Linked DNA regions of Homo sapiens: region 1 is linked to region 2. The links come from fine-mapping of genetic effects on gene expression. A gene starts in region 2. The other region holds a variant in brackets. All regions are shown on one strand. Distances are from middle to middle.

Region 1 (5,375 bases), 27 kb before region 2:
CCCAGGCTGGAGTGCAGTGGCCCAATCTCGGCTCACTGCACGCTCCACCTCCTGGGTTCATGCCTTTCTCCTGCCTCAGCCTCCTGAGTAGCTGGTACTACAGGTGCCCGCCACCACGCCCGGCTAATTTTTTGTATTTTTAGTAGAGACGGAGTTTCACCGTGTTAGCCAGGATGGTCTCATCTCCTGACCTCGCAATCCACCTGCCTCGGCCGCCCAAAGTGCTGGGATTACAGGCGTGAGCCACCGCGCCCGGCCCTAAATATTTATTTTTAATAGTTATGTAACAATTTAATTATCCATTTGCCTATTCACAAACAAATATTGGTGAGTTTTCAGTATTACAATGTTGCCAGGAACACTTGTGTACTTGTCTTCTGGTGCACTTGTGTAAAGACTTCTCCAGGGCATATGTCTATGGGCTGAATTGCTGGTCGCAAGTTATGCACACCTACGGCTTTACTGGATATGGCTGGATTGCTCTCAAAATTATTCCCTTCAGGGACTCAAAGTGGCTACAACAGGTCCAGAAGTCATATTCAAACACTGCAACAGCCAAAAGAAAAGAGACAGTTTCTTCTGGTTCTTCTTAAGAATGAGAGAACCTTTCTCAAATAGCTTCCAACAGACTTTGCTTCAAGACTGTTTGCTGGGATGAAGTCTTACACTCATTCTTAAAGCAGGCATTGGCAAATCAAACCCCATAGACCACCAAGTTTTCTCAACATCGGCACTCTTAACGTTTTGGGGCAGGTAAGTCTTTGTTGAAGTGCTTTCCTGTGCATTGTAGGATGTTAAACATCATCCCTGGCTTCTACCCATGAGATGCCAGTAGCACCTCCCCAGATATGACAACTAAAAACGTTGCTAGATATTGCCAATGTCACCTTAGTAGGGGAGGGGAATAGCCTCTCATGAAGAACCACTGGCTTAGTCTGATTATTTGGTAAGGAATAGATGGTGGGAATTCAACCACTGTGACCACTACAGACCCTGTGCTGGGTCAGTGCAGGATGCAAATGAACCTTCCGGAACCCTGTGTTAAAATGCCTCCACATTGAACACCACTGCTTCTGCTAAATACTTCTTCCTAGGAAGTGTTAGATCCGTAGCTGTTTCTGCTTTTAGCCTGGCAGAGGATTAATTCCAGAATCTAGTGAGTGGCAGAAGGTACTCACAGCAATGAAACCACTTCAATTGTGCAGCTGTAGGACAGCAAGCTACTCAAGTCATCACAATATAGGCCTTGATTTCATTTTCAGGTCAAAATGTGATTGAAAATCAGGTCCTTATTTCCCTTTAGGTCCTGGACTCTTTTACATTCTTTTCTTCCAAGTTTCTTTAGAGAGCCTTGAAAATATTGCTGAATGTCAAAACAAGATGTTCCCAGTTCCCCGCCCCCCCGCCACCCTCCTAATTTATATATAGCATGGGCTAATTTTCAGTCTTCTGTTTCAGTGACAGTGACATCCTGTTCCTAACAGGTGGCAGAGTTACAGTCAGCTTCTTTGCAGTTATGGAACCATTATTTTAGGGCATATCCAGCCCTCCTAATTTATTTTATTAAATGAGGAGAAGACTCATCCCAGGGGGCTGTCATAGCAGGTAGGTGAACTTTGGCTACCTTGGCTTCTTGTGTCCCCTGGGCTTGCATATACTTGTAAACTCTGGGGAAGACTATTTGCTCCAGATGACACTGAATGGGGAACCCTCACATAGATCATTCCAGCTCTTCTCTCTGAGTGCCCTCCCTGATCATACTGAGGATTCCAAACACTCATATTCAGCACAAGCTGCAGTAGATACTTTTTTAAGAGGCAAAGGACCCACTCTTACATGCACACACAATCCTCCCCTTTTTTCTCCCACTCCTCACACTAGCCCAAGTCAAGATGTTTCTGAGCTCCTGCTGTATTCCCAGCCCTGTGCTCTGGGAGTAAGATTTGGTCTCGGCTCTCAAGGAACTCATGGAGCGGAGGGAGAGACCCCTGATGACAGTGCAAGGCAAGATTCATCAAATACGAAAAGCAGGTGCTATGGGCATCTTGAGGAAGGAGAGCTCCATGCCTGGGGTTCCCGGAACCAATGCTGGGAGTGGTTGAAAGAGAAACGGATTTGGGACTGATGGGTTTAACTCACAGCACTCCCTCCTCCAGCTTTGTGAATATATTAGTCCGTTCTCATACTGCTATAAAGATACTACCTGAGACTGGGTAATTTATAAACAAAAGAGGTGTAATTGGCTCACAGTTCTGCATGGCTAGAGGGCCTCAGGAAACTTACAATCATGGCAGAAGGTGAAGCAAGGCACCTTATTCACAAGGCGACAGGAGAAGGACAGCGCAGGAGAAACTGCCACTTTTAAACCATTAGATCTCACAAGAACTCCCTCACTATCACGAGAACAGTATGGGGGAAAACTGCCCCCATGATCCAATCATCTCCCATCAGGTCCCTCCCAAGACACCTGGGGATTACAATTTGAGATGAGACTGTGGTGGGGACACAGAGCCAAACCGTATAAGTGATCCTGAATGGAGTAGTTGGTGGTCATTTGACATTTTGATCCTTCTTTTTCTCATGTGCAAAGTGGGAACAGTAACACTTATTCATAAGGCTGATGTGTGGATGAAATGAAGTAATGGTTGTTAAAGTTCCCATTATGGTACTAGCTCAATAAAGTGATGTTCTGTTTAAAATATGAAGATGAGGAGTTCCCTACCCCTGGGAAAATTCACGAAGTAGTTTGGCAGTGTGAGTAATGCCCATAATAATTACTAACACTTCTTCAACACTTAATCATGTGCCAGGCACTATACTTACTGGTTCATTCATGCATTCTATAAATATTTACTAAGGACCTACTGCACGTTAGAGACACATCTAGGAGTTGAAGACAGAGCAGAGAACAAGACACTCAAAGCCCCTGTCCTTACCGCCCTTACAGTCTGGTGCTAGAGACAATTTACAAATTGCTGTTTCAGGAGTAATAAGCAAGTATGAGAAAACTAAAGCAGTGTAACATGGCAGAGGGGGTCCAGTGGTACTATTTTAAGGTGAGGTATCCAGGGGGTGAGAGATGTACCAGAAGTGAGATGGGTGAAGTA[C/T]GCAGATATCAGGAGAATGATATCCAGCTCAGGGAGCACAAGGTTGTGGAGACAGCAAGGTGTCCCCTGAGCTGGAGGCAGTCAGGCCAGCGTGGCTAAGGCAGAAAAAGCAATGGTGAGAGAAGAGGGAGATGAGGCTGGAGAGGCAGCCAGGGGCCAGATAGGTGGGATGTTTTGGCCTTGGTAAGGACAGTGGATTCTACTGTAAATGTGGGAGACCATTAGAAGATTGGAAGTAGAGGCTCATGGGCTGGCTAGTAATTTCAAAGTGTCCCTCTGGCAGCAGTAAAGGGATTAAGGGTGGGCGCAGGGAGAGTGGAAATGTCCAGTGCACAATCCAGGTGACCGGCTACTGGCTTGGACTAGGGTTGTGATAGGAGAGGCGAGAAGAGGTCCAGTCTCCTGTGGGATTGGATGTGGGGTGTGAGCAAAAGAGAGGAGGCAAAGGTTTTGGCCAGAGTAGCTGGGTGAACAACAGTGCCACTAACCAGTAAGAGGAACCATCAGGGAAGAGCAGGTTTGGGAAGTGGAGAATCAAGGTTTCCATACTGCCACAATAAACTTAAGATTCTGTTAGACATAAAGATGTTGTGTAGGTGGTTGGAGATATGAAATGAGTTCAGTTAATATGTGGTCACATATAAACTACTTAGTCCTCTTAAACTAAGGTACGTACTCCTATTATGCTCATTTTATAGATGAGGAAACTGAGGCACAGCTTAAGAAAATTGAAACCCTTTGGTCCTTTCAGGACAAGGAGACATGGTTCATGAATGGAGCAGGTGGAAGAAGATGAAGGTTGTCCCCATCAAGTTACTGGAGACACCAGTTGGAGCAAAGCAGTGACTATTTTAGATGCTGACTCCAAAAAAGTAAGGGCACAGATAGGACTCATATGTTGGAGGTGAGGCCTGAAGGGAGGTGTTAGGGCCATGAGGGTGGACCCCCTCATGAATGGCTCAGTGCCATCCTCATAGCAATAAGTGAGTTTTCACTCTACTAGTGCCCATGAGAGCTGATTGTTAAAAGGGAGCCTGGCATCTCCCCACCTGCCTTCTCTCTCACCTTGTTGTGATTTGCACATACTGGTGCCCCTTCCTCTTCCACCATGAGTGGAAGCAGCCTGAAGCCATCACCAGAAGCAAATGCAGGTGCCTTGCTTCTTGTACAGGCTGCAGAACTGCAAGCCAAAGTAACCTCTTTCTTTATAAATTACCCAGCCTCAAGTATTCCTTTGTAGTAACACAAGTGTTCTAAGAAACTCCCCAACGCACAGCGTTTTTCAGGACTTAACATTGCCACCTAGCCCGCCAACGATCTTTACCACCTCTCCAACGCCTTTCTCCTCTGTGGGTTCTGGGAAGGACCTGTTTACTGGGATGGCAGCCAAGAGGAGAAGGGAGAAGAGCTGTGCGATGGTCTCCATGGCCAAAATCCCCTAGAATGAGAAGCATTTTCTAAGATCCAGAAGCCCATGACAGCACTGTCTACTTTAAGGCAAGCTGTCCCAAGAAAAGCAGGTAAGCTCATTAGTGAGGAGCTGGGTCTTCCTCAATATCTATATTCCTTCCTCAAGGTCTTTATTCCCTGTTTAGGAAGAAATTCAAACCTGCTCAGCCCTGGCATCTCCCACCGGCATCTCCCAGATGCCTGAGCAGGTCTGTGGCACTAAACTCACAGGAGCGAATAGTAGAAGAAATACGTCTTCCATCCTGCCCAAGCTCTGAAACCACCTTTTGTGTTTCCTATAAATGTATTCACTCTTTTCACTGGACAACCATGGAAACCAGTAGCAAAGGCATTTTGTTAAGTTCTAACTCAAAAAGCTTAATCACATTTTGGCAGCTTTTCTCTATGACACAGACGCATAAACTTCATTCTCTCCCCTTTTGCCCCTCAGCTTTGGGTATTAGGCATGTCTTAATAGACCAGCACAGCAGTTTAAAAGGAGAAAGTGTAAGCTTCCTGATACATTGGTTAACTCTGCTTCCATTCCTTTTGCAAACTTCTCAGCATTTTCCGAGAGCAACCATCTTCCATGGATCGATATCTCCCTTTGGATCTGGAATCAGTAAGAGAGAGAACCTGTGAAATGCCATTCCTGAATAAAATATGGAAAGAGTTCATTCTGATTTTACTCATTTTTTACCATGCCAACTTCTCTCACATGTTGGAAGGATGTGTGCCCATGAAGGGGGGCTGATCAGGGGAGGAAAAGCAGGGAAGCCATCAAGACTGTGGAGGAATCAGAGCAGAGCAACGACTGTA
Region 2 (5,375 bases):
TCCCCTACACCCTAACCGCTCCCCAACTCCAGCCACCAAATCCCAGTATTGTGCGTAGCCCAGTTCTAAGTCTTGTCTGGCTATTAAGCTGCATGACGTTGGCTACCCTGAGCCTCAGTTTCCTTATCTGCAAACTCCAGGGGCAGAATTGGATGATGTCGAAGGTCCTTTCTACCTCTGAAATACACTGACTGGGGGAGAAGATGAAATGTCTCCTTTGTGAAAATCTAAACGTATTTATTACGTACCAAAAACCACAGCACGGCCGACTCCAGACTTGGGAAGTGTCTAGCAGTTGTCCACGTGTCGCCTGTCTTTTATTGCAATGGACCAGTGCAAGAAGTAGGAAGCTTGAGCAAGATCCAGTTTTAAAGATATCAGCCGAGTAACATTTAGAAAAATGGGCAGAACACAACAGCAGAGTAAGAAAGTAAAACTTGTCAACAAATTTGTATGGTTAAATGTGTGTGTGCGTAAGAGTCATGTTCACTCATATTTTATTTTTTAGGGATGATATTAGAACTGTATTTGGAGACAAAATGAGCCATGGGTCCTGGCTGAAATGCTAAACTGATACATAAACACCAAGGAGAGGAACTTGCTTCCTTCTAAGGGGTGTGGAAAGTTGGAGAATAAAAGAGCCTCGTGGGATAGGGGGCAGTGATGCCAAGTGCTATTTATGGGCTATTTATGGGCCACCAGAGATTGAACTGCCTGTGGGGAGAAGGATCCAGAAGGGACTCTGGGTAGCAGAAATATCTGAGATGGAGTTTTACCTTTTTTGATGTGGAGTGAGTGAAGAGAGCCTCCTCTTTTACTTTCCTTAAGAAATCTTCAGTCCAGTATACGTTATACATTAATTAAGTTGGTATTTTGAGTGTGTTGCTTTTCGGGGTATGTAGAAGAGAGGCTGAATTCTCATTTGGCTTGATGTTGGAATCAGGAACAGTCAACTTTGATACGGGGCACAAGAGCGGGCCATAGCTGATACCCTGGTTTCTCTGTCTGGGCCTGGCCTATCTTGTGGCTGGGTGCACACCTGCTTTATTTTTTACTTGAAATGTCTTCTTTTTCCACCTGTCCTACTCATGTCTTCAAAGCCTAATTTTCATTTTCCCTGATCACTCCACCTCCTCTCTGCCCTCATTCATTCATTAGTGACTACAGGCTGGAGATGCCAATTTCAGGGCTTCTGCCCTAAGCCCCCAAGGGAGCTGTGTGCTTCTTGAGTGCAGATACTTTGTTTCACTCTTCCCCACTCTACCCCCCAAACCAGAAGAACAGAGCTCCTGTTTCTTCCTTTCCATGGTAGGCCCAACACCTGGCTTTGTGCCTGGCACACAGCAGACATTCAACATTTGTAGAACTGATAGACTATTAGATTAGTAGTGACAAATACTCCCCGAAGAAAATGCTTATTTGAACATACATCCCAAATTTTCTGCCCTCCAGAAAATGCTTCCTTGGAAGGATTTAAGACAGTTTGATGTCTCTGCAAACATTATCTGCGTTTAGGGACCAACTTGCCCTTCTCAGCGTTCACCTGGGATGTCTTTATTCTTCCATTTAACCTTTACAGGGGACCCCGATGGTGACGTGTCCTTCCTAGGGGCCATTACCTCTCTCAGGGATCCTAGTGTCTGGTAGAAAACAACAGCTCCAAGTTCTCTGCATCCAAACTTCGCCAGGATACGCAGATAAACCTATTTAAAAAAAAAAATCTTTTTAAATTCTCAACTTGGTGGTGTAAATAAGGCCCTTGCAGCGCCCTCAAGTAATAATCAACGGCAGTCATTATGGAAGGAGGGTAGAGATGAGCGCCTTACTCAAAGCCAAGACATTCACAATTTCTCGGGCCGGCTGCCTGTGCCTGGGCGTGTGCACTGTGCACTCCGAAGCTGTGTGCGGCGGTGGCCTTGGAGGTGCGCGTGGCCTTAGGAATTCCCGCGGTCGGGCACCCTCCGCTTAACACCGGGCCGTGTCCCCGGCCTGGGAGCCGAGCAGCGCGGCTCTGGCATGCTAAGTGGGCAGCACTGGGGCGCCTTTGTTCCTCGCGGCCGTCTCCCAGGACCGGCTTCCCTCTGAATCTAAATGGGCTTCTCCCTCACCCGCTCCGCCCTGGCCTCCTGGCCTGGGCACGGCGCCCCTGGGTAAAGCGCGCCCGGACACCTGGGGCGTGGGCGTGCGGGGGCAGCCCGGGCTAGGCGAGCGCGGGAGAGGCGCCTGCGGTCCCAGCCCGGCCAGGCCCGAGCACCTGCGCGAGCCCGAGGGAGCGCCCGGCCCTCTGCCCCCGCCAGTCGCCGGCGCCCAACTTGGGGGTCCCGCCGTCCGCAGCCCCAAGTCTCGCGGTGCTACCGCTCTGACCGGGGAGCCGCGGGCCGGGCGCCCCCCGCCGCGCGACAAAGGCTGAACCGGGAGGAGGAGGCCGAGGAGGGGGAGGAGGAGGAGAGAAAGGCGGGGACGGCGAGCGGCCGCGGCGGCGGGGAGAGCGGAGGGAGCGCCGCCCGCCCGCGCCGTCCTTTGTGTGGCGGCGGCGGCGCCTGGGCCTGACCGGGTCCCCGGGGCTGAGCGCCGGGCTCCGCGCCGCCCCTCCCGCGCCCCTGCCAAGCGGGCGCCTATCCTCTCCGAGCAAGATGGCAACCCCGGCGGCGGTCAACCCTCCGGGTGAGTAGCGGCCTGGGCCCCGCCGCCCGCCGCAGCCCGCAGGCCTTGCCCGGGGCCGGAGCGGACCAGGCGCGCCGGGCGCCCCCGGGGGCGCGGAGCCGCAGCTCGGCGCGGTGGGTGGTGGAGCGGCTGTCACTACGCGGCAGCCGCAGCATCAGCACCAGAGCGGCATCTGCATCCCAATCGCTGCCCATCCGGTCCCGGGCAGGCGCCGGTCCGGACCCGCGGGCGGCCGGACGCTGGCCTCGCATCCTCGGGAACCCGAAGGGCAGGCCCGGGAGCCCCCGAAGTTCTGAAAATAACCGCCTTTGCCTTCCCCATCCCACGCATTTTTCTCTTCCGGTCCCGGCTTTTGTGGCATCACGGCGTCAGCCAGTCCTGGCTGGTGGAGGGCTCCGCGCTGACGGAGGGAAAAGTTTGGAGCTGGGATTCAACAGGGTACAACTCCCGGGACTCTCCCCTGCCCGCCCCGCCCACTAAGCGCTGGTCCTTTGCGCCCTTTGCGACTGGCTGCTGTGTGTCCTAACCCTCCGGGGGCACAAAACACCCAGCCTGTGGTCACCAGCGTGGAGCAGCCCTGGTCCTGCCCAGGTGACATCCTCTGCTTTCTGGTCTGACCTGTCCCCAGGGTGCAGTCTGTGACAACTGAGCTCATTAGGAAATATTTCAAAAATGGAAGAGTTCTTGATCAAGTGGCAACATTGACTTGTTTTGGTATTGTAGTAGGGAAGTTCCGTTTTCACTGGGAAAGTTCCCTACCTGATGAGCAGGGTGTGGGAGAAGAGAAACGTGAACATCTAAGCTAGTACAAACTTTTGGGTGTTGTGCAGAGGCTGCTGTGGGCACGGCAGGTTGCTGGGTCCCTGTGGAAGATGCAGGGAGAGTCACAGAGGGCGGCCCCCAGGAAATTCCCAGCAGAGGGAGGTCATGTGTTGGAGATAGGGAGGGTCGGGGGAGGAACAGCAATGCCTAGCAAAGAAAAGTGTCTCTCATCATAGAATTAGGAATGAAAGATCCCTTTCATCTAAGGCGGCCAGGGAAGGCTTCTGGAGATTGGACATTTCGGCTGAACCTTGAAAACGGGAATGTTTGAATATACAGAGCCAGTAGCAGAGGGGCATTGCAGGCGTAAGTAACAGTGGACTTGCTCTAAGCAAGTGCAGAGGTCAGTGAGTAGTTGGTGCACTGGGGATATAAGAGGCAGCAGTGGGATTTAACACTGAGTTGTTTGGATGTGACCAGGCTTTAAAGGACAGACTGAGGAGTATGGACTTTCTCTCTCCACATTAAGGGAGAGTCCTCTGCACACTTCCTAAGAACCAGAAAAATAAAATAAAATAGAAAAGAGAGAGAGAGACAGAGAGAGAGAGAGAGAGACCTCAATGGTATTGAACAAGGAAATCGCATGATCACTTTTTCTGGAAGACTGATTTGTCAGCTATGTCTAGGAAACATTCTAAGGAGGGAACAAGACTTGAGACAGGGAGGCCAGCATGAAATGAGGCAGGTGCTGGGGAGGCCAGAATTGGTGGCCATGGCTGGACCAGAGAGGAAGGAATGCACCACTGGGCGGGTAGAAGAGTTCCAGATTTGGCACTGATTAGATTTGGAGTAAGAGTAAAGGAGGAGGCCAAGGAGAGACAAAGGGGAGGTGTCCATGGAGACACCAAGGTGAAGAGCCTGTGTAATTCCAAGGAAGGCAGTTCCATCAGCAGAAATAGGGACTCTTGGAAGAACAGACAAGGAGGCCTCTGTCCAGAACACTGAGGAGGAACGTGGCTGGTCTGAAAACAAATCTGTGCCAGTTTGCCTGTGACTGAAGCTGCAATTTCAACCCATTCAACTACTTCAAAATCAATGGAAAATTGATAGATGTAAATGTTATGAAATTAGAAAAAGCAAAAGATGTTAAATGAAAACATTTTAGTCCAATATACACTGGGAACAGGAATAAAATCCCTGGTGATTTACATAATTTCTATGCCAGGACATCATTGTTTAAAACTTTTTTGTCCATTACATTGCTCCATGAGCTACATGGACTAAAGATCTAAAGATGGAGTAACTGCCCCTGGCCCCGTGGTGTGAAGCACAGGAAAGCCTGTGCCTGTGCCTTGGACTGCGGGAGACTTGAATGGTACAAGCATAGGGTATTGTTGGCGTTGCTAGTCAACACCTGGCCAGCTTGACAGATGCTTTTCTCTGTTGACAGCTATACCAGAGATCTTCAGCATGGTGATAATTTCTCAAGGGAAAATTCCTTGAGGTGATCACCTTTCCTTTTACCATCATTTCTTTTACTGGTCCCCTGAGGATGATCCGTGGGGATGTGTTATTATTGCCCCATGTGAATCTCCATCTTTTTCTTTGGGAGAAAGGGTTTAATTTTAAGGGACATGGCTCAGGGTTTGAGCCAAAGAGAGAGAGTTCAGATTCTATGGGCAATTTACAACAAAAAGAGCCATGGTACCCAAGCTTGTCACCCAGAGCCTACCTCACATGGGCTTGTGAGACTTCTTTGAATTCCTTTTTCTTCCTGCCTCCTTTCCCCAGATATGGTTGCTTTGCAAAGAATAAGAGCTTGGTAAACAGAACCAAATGGATGGGGAAGCACCAGGATTTATTTCTGCTGCTAGTTCGTGTCCAGGGTACAAAGGCCACAGCCAGTCACCTCCCCACGCCCCCACTTGTTCCTTTTTTCCCAGCTGACC

The links. PIP is the estimated chance that this variant, and not a neighbour inherited with it, causes the effect.
Region 1: its variant is the best candidate, but not a certain one, in a credible set for the expression of ARNT2 in lung (TOPMed, PIP 0.52).

The regions. Positions count from the first base shown.
Region 1 is chr15:80,374,985-80,380,359 of GRCh38, forward strand. All of the region lies in intron 3 of ARNT2-DT (ARNT2 divergent transcript), which reads right to left. Among named protein-coding and RNA genes, the nearest start is that of ARNT2-DT, 27 kb to the right of the region's middle. The variant C/T (reference allele first, on the strand shown) is at 3,108.
Region 2 is chr15:80,401,883-80,407,257 of GRCh38, forward strand. It overlaps ARNT2 (aryl hydrocarbon receptor nuclear translocator 2), which reads left to right and starts at 2,500. Exons shown (of 19, transcript NM_014862.4): 1 at 2,500-2,664. The coding sequence starts at 2,634. ARNT2-DT (ARNT2 divergent transcript) reads right to left here and starts at 2,314. Exons shown (of 6, transcript NR_184070.1): 1 at 2,109-2,314; 2 at 1,620-1,703. RefSeq lists an enhancer at 1,931-2,431.